Linked DNA regions of Homo sapiens: region 1 is linked to region 2. The links come from fine-mapping of genetic effects on gene expression. Tissue or cell type: blood mononuclear cells. Region 2 holds a variant in brackets; the other region holds the start of a gene. All regions are shown on one strand. Distances are between the middles of the regions. Region 1 holds the start of TBC1D5 (TBC1 domain family member 5). Region 2 overlaps TBC1D5 (TBC1 domain family member 5).

Region 1 (2,915 bases), 140 kb after region 2:
ATCCTGCCATTTGCCCCTTCTCCCAAGCCACCTCTACACCCGGGGGTGAGTTATTAAAAAGAACATGTTTATTGATAAATACAACACTTTATTTATTTGCACACAAGTTATCCACTTCCTTGCTACTCAAAGATAGTCCCTTGTCCAGCTGCACATGTTATCAGAAATGTACAATATCAAAATGCACCATAGGCCTACTGAACCAGAAAATGCATTTTTAATAAGAGCCCCAAGTGATTCCCACCCACATTAAGGTTTGAGTGTTCTGTGATACTGCAGATAGCTGTAAAAATTAAAAATGCTCAAGTTTACAAATGAATTCAGAGATATGGTATGAAAAGTACCAAGACACGGAATCAGAAAAGCCCAAAGAGAAAAACCAATATATAAATGAATTTCTTTGCCACCGATAGCAAAGGCTCATTTTTCAACAATACCTATTTATTGCTTCCTGCTTTAAGTATTTTGTGCAAGAGCACAACACTTATAAAGGTTTACAAAAGAATTACCGGGTCTAGAAATTCCAGGCAACCTGGTCCAAACGTGTGAAACCTGCATGTTAAAATCTTAGGATTTTGTCCAATTCAGAGTTGACAAATGAACTCTTTCCAGAAAGTTATTATTCGAAAAAAACCTACAGGATGTTAACTTTAAACACAGATTATAATTCCTGTAACTAAAACGAGTAACTGGTATCGAACAAATTCTAGGTCACTTGTAGAATCGAATCTTGTAGTGAAGGTCTGTGTGTTTTTCCAGGAAAAGTCGGGGTGGGGAGCGGGATTTGCCCTCCCTGCGAATTTTTTTTTTTTTTTTTTTTTTTTTTTTTTTGCTCTTATCCTGAAAGACCTCCGTTTCTTACGTGTGAATAAACTTAAGTCGTACTAAATCCAGGTCACGGTTCCCTTCCTCAAAAGTGAAGTCAAGGCTTCTCTCTTCTAAAGACTATTAAGGTTTGAGGATTCAGGGCCCGTTTCGCTTCCGGCTAGGGAAGGAAGCGTGCTTCCCGGGGCCCAAATGAACATGGAAATTTACTAAGTAGGAAGTTGAGCACTAGTCCAGCCGCCAGGCCCTGCCTTTACTGCAGTTGGCCTTCCAGTCTAGACCCCGACCTCCTGGGGCAGGGAAAGCAGGCAGACTGCAAGCAGCCACCCCGCCCAGCTCGCCCTGCCCGCCCTGCCCGCCAGGGAGCTGAAGGGTCCACCCCTCCCGCCATCCACCCCCGACGCCGACTCCGAGGCGCACAAACGGGGGGCGGTGCGGCAACCCGTCCGCCGTGGCGGCGGCACCCTCAGGCCCTCCCGTGAGAAGGCGGCGGCGGCTGCGGCTGCAGCAGCGGCGCGAAGGGGGGCGAAACCTGTCCTGAGGCTGAGTGGGAGGCCGGGGCGGGAACGACTGCATGTGGGGCTGCACTGGAGGAAGGCGGAGGCGTTCAGAGGGCTTGGGCTTTTTTACGATCATCATCATTATTTTATTTTACCTGTGGCGCAGAAGGGCTCCCCAGCTCCTATTCCCTGAATCCTCCTCCTCCTCCCCTCCTCTTTCTCTCTCTCTCCCTCAGTCTGCAGGGCGCTCGCGGAAGCGGCCGGGCCCGGCCCGACCTGAAAGAGAACAGGGCGGGAGGGGGTGGCGGCGGTGACCAGCGGCCACGTGACCACGCTCGCGCCGTAACGGCGGCCGCCTCCCGCCGCGCGCCCTCCCCGCGCTCCACCTCTAATAACCTCGCGGCCCGCGCGCCTGGGAAGCTCGTGCGCAGGCGCCCGCACGGGACCTGAAGTCTGCGCGCGAGCGCAACGCGCTCGCTCTCGGGTCCGGGTTTCTGGGGCCCGCGAGGCGCGAGAAGCGAGTAGGTGGGGAGTGAGCCGCGGGCAGAGCTCTCCTTGGCTGAGCCGGCAGGCTGCTGAGCGCATGCGCCTGAGGGCTTTTACCCCTCCCTTCTCTCCCTGCTTCCAACCGGCGCGCGGCTGGAGGCTGGGAACCAGCTCCTGGGTCTTAGTCAGAGGTTCACATCCACCAACTATCTTCCCAGGGTTGGACTGAGAAGGGGAGCAGAGGGTCCCAGGGACTCTCCTGAGATCCTGGCTCTCCTGCCAAGGAATTTACATTTCCTTGTCACAGGTAAATGGCCTTCCATGCCACATTTTTCTGTGGCTGAGTAGGCTTCTAACTCAGCTCATCTGTCACTTTCTCCGTGAAACTTACCCCTGCCTACTTTAGAGGAGTCACTAGCACTTTGTGCAGACCTACCTTGTAGTACAACCCATAGAAAGATAAAGGTTAGGAGTTATTTTTTCACAAGCCCACAATACTAGACTGTGGTTTCTATCTTTATCTCATAAACTTGGACAGGGTCTTCAGTGTTGTAGTATCTCCCTAAACGTCTGATGACTATCAGAACACAGGGAATGTCTAAAACTTTTATCGTTGCCCTTGGTCTCTGCATAATCATGATTTAAGATCCCCTTTAACCCAAGCACGTGGGAAGGTGGTGTTTGTTTCCCCAGTATGAAAGCCTTTAAATCATAATGTTAATTAGAGTGGTAAATGCTTCACTTAGTAAAAGAGATTTATGGTATTTTATTAGCTTATCTTCACAAAGAGCTCCAACGAAAATTGATACTGTTTAGTCCAGAAAAGGAAACCAAGTCAGAGAAAGGTCAGATTTCTGAAGGTTATCTAGCTTCAGAGGAAGATGCCTGTGTGGGAGACCTTTGTGGACAAACACCCCACTTCACACAGAGATCCCTCTTTTTCTGTTGCCCCTCTTTCTGTTGCAGAAACTGAACAGGTTAAGTTAGTGCCTGTGGCCAGATTTAATCCGGCCAGATTTATTTATTTATCAAATAAATAAAATGTAAAAACTCCCTAATTGGGAGTTCTGGCTAGACCAGTCATCATCACTGTTAGACTGGTGA
Region 2 (2,915 bases):
AACTACATATAACTTTACTCACCATCAATTTGCTAAGAACCATGATTTTTTGGTTTGGTTTTGAGACAGAGTCTGGCTGTGTTGCCCAGTGCTCACTGCAACCTCAGTGCTCACTGCAACCTCCACTTCCAGGGTTCAAGCAATTCTCATGCCTCAGCCTCCTGAGTTCCTGGGACTACAGGTGCATACCACCACACCCAGGTAATTTTTGGTATTTTTAGTAGAGACAGGGTTTCACCATGTTGGCCAGGCTGGACTCCAACTCCGGGCCTCAAGCGATCCACCTGCCTCAGCCTCCCAAAGTGCTGGGATTGCACGTGTGAACCACCGCACCCAGCCAGATCCATGATATTTTGAATTCAACTTAGTCTCAGGCTTCCATATCCCCAAAATATCCATCTTTACATTGGTACAGTTCTCTTCTGGGATAATGTTCTTCAACAAAAAACAACTCTCTTTGGAGCAAAACCTCCTCTTCACAAAGCAGCTAGGCTGCATTTCCTAACAGACAAGCCTTCTCCAACTCATACAATCACCAATCTCAGGTTGTCTTTGCATGAATGAGTGACTCATCAACATGGTTTTTTTTTAAAGGAGTCAAGCTCCTAAGCCACAATAAGTATTAGTCACATAGTATTAACTACTTTTACTAAACCACACAATTAAAACAAACACAAGCAAATTTATAATACCCTAGAGACCATATACATCAGAAAACCCTACAATTTTTCAGGACCTCAAATCTTAGCTGAACTCAGTCATAAGTAATGTGTTGAATTACATGTAATAAAAATGTCTAGTTCAACCTGGCATTTTTAGCAACTAGAATGCTGCTCAGCAGCACCTGTGATTTTCAGAACTTAAAGTGCAAATTTAATCATCCCACAAACGTTAAATTGTGTTTGAAAGAGTTTGGGCAGTAGGAACAAATATTTAAAAAGAGGAAAAGGATAGTCTTTTTTAGTAACCAGAAAATTTGATCATGCAGGAAAACAAAGTTCACCTAAGCTTCATTTTATCTACTTCTATGATTAAAGATCAGGAAAGTATGCTTCATTTTTAGGAAGCATACCAGTAAATATTAACACATATATATTAACATGCTCAATTGTGACCGACAAATATTATGAGACTTCTAAGTTTAAGGGGGAAATAAAGACTTTGTTAATATCCAATAATGCAATACAGAAATTATATTTATGTTATGTGTAATAAATGTTTTCATAATATTGAATAGACTTTTTCATACAAAGATGAAGACCCATTCACCAAATTACTGACTTCTGTATTATACTCTGAAAAAAATCAATAAATCATTTAAGCTTGCTCTCTAGTTCTAGACACATTTATTTTGCAAGTTGGCCTGTCTAAATTGTGATAGACTAGAACGCAAATAAAGTAGGTCTCTCATTTCATGACTACTCTACTGCCCACACCTCCCCTTCTCCTGATAAAGTCAATCAGAAGCTCCTGAGAAGAGTCTAATTTTTACCAAAAATATTTTCACCACAAGTATTTTAGGGCTGC[G/A]TACAGTGGCTCATGCCTGTGATATCAGGCACGTTGGGAAGCCAAGGAGGGAGGATCGCTTGAGCCCAGGGAGTTCAAGGCTAGCCTGGGCAACATAGAGTGACACCAGCTCCACAAAAAAATTAAAAAATTAGCCATCCATGGTGGCATGCGCCTGGGGTTCCAGCTATTCAGGAGGCTGCTGGGAGGATTGGGAGGATTGCTTGAACCCAGGAATGCGAGGCTGCAGTGAGCGGTGATTGCACTGCACTCCAGTCTGGGCAACAGAGTGAAACCCCGTCCAAAAAAAGAAAGTATTTTTATTTTCTTTTACTCAAACCTTTGGCTATCTGTAATATATATAAAGCAAGAATAGTGTAATTAATGATAATGCAAAAGAAAAGTAATAATGATACTGGTGACTTTTTATAACAATTTTTAGAATATATAAATAAAAATTAGCAGCATAAGAAATGCTTAATTCAATATAATTAAATATGAGAGAATATCCTTCAGGAGAGAAAACTTAAATATAGCATTTTATAATATTAAACCTTTACAAGGTTCAGTTCATGGGTTTTTAAAATTGTTTTGTTAGGATCAAATTATACACTTTGACAAAGAGGTCATTTCTATACTGAAAAACAACAACAACAACAACAAATAACCAAAAGCCAGTAAATAATATCAAAACTCCCAAAAAACGATCCTGATGCACACCAACAGCTTCAGATAAGACAGAAAATCCCAGCTCAAGATAGGTCTTGCAACATAATGAGAGGAAAAAAATGATAAGAAATGGCTTAATCAAATTCCTTTACAATAATTAGTTCGATTTTACCAAAGAGAATAATTAGCCATGGTTTAAACTAACCAGATATATATATCTGCTGTAACTATTAGATTAAAATCAGTGATTTTCCAGAATATCTCCTTTGAAAGTAGTATGCAGATAACATCTCATAGAATAAAGATGATCTAAAAACTCAGATGACCATTTACCAAAAATAATTGTTAAACCTTCATTATGTACAAGAAATTAAAGGTAGTATTAGATGAACGTAATACAATCCATCAATACAAATTGCAGTTTAAAATATTTTCTCAATAATATCTAATGTGTACAGCAAAAAAAAATTAACAAAAATATCCTTATATAGCAGTGAATAAAATTGGAATAAAATCCTTTTTAGAGCTTTATATAATGACCTGTGGTAGCTTGCAGTCTCCCTCCAGCTTTTACTTCCAACTCAACATAAATTTGAATCCAAATTATCAATCTTTCTGTCCTCATTCTGGTAACTTAATACACCTGGATCTAACTATAAATGTTATTTTCTTTTTGTATTTGAAACCTGCAGTTCTCAGAGATTGCGAAGGAAACAAATCAAGGTTGAGCTTAAAGAAAA

The links. PIP is the estimated chance that this variant, and not a neighbour inherited with it, causes the effect.
Region 1: TBC1D5 starts here. The variant in region 2 is fine-mapped to the expression of TBC1D5 in blood mononuclear cells (TOPMed, PIP above 0.99). The same link has a PIP of 0.9 or more in T cells and whole blood.

What each region holds. Positions count from the first base shown.
Region 1 is chr3:17,741,001-17,743,915 of GRCh38, forward strand. TBC1D5 (TBC1 domain family member 5) reads right to left here and starts at 1,631. Exons shown (of 23, transcript NM_001349074.2): 1 at 1,481-1,631. It overlaps LOC105376975 (a long non-coding RNA gene), which reads left to right and starts at 1,944. Exons shown (of 2, transcript NR_135536.1): 1 at 1,944-2,118. RefSeq lists silencers at 1,118-1,317, 1,548-1,857 and enhancers at 1,317-2,020, 1,978-2,047.
Region 2 is chr3:17,604,637-17,607,551 of GRCh38, forward strand. All of the region lies in intron 2 of TBC1D5 (TBC1 domain family member 5), which reads right to left. Among named protein-coding and RNA genes, the nearest start is that of TBC1D5, 140 kb to the right of the region's middle. The variant G/A (reference allele first, on the strand shown) is at 1,528.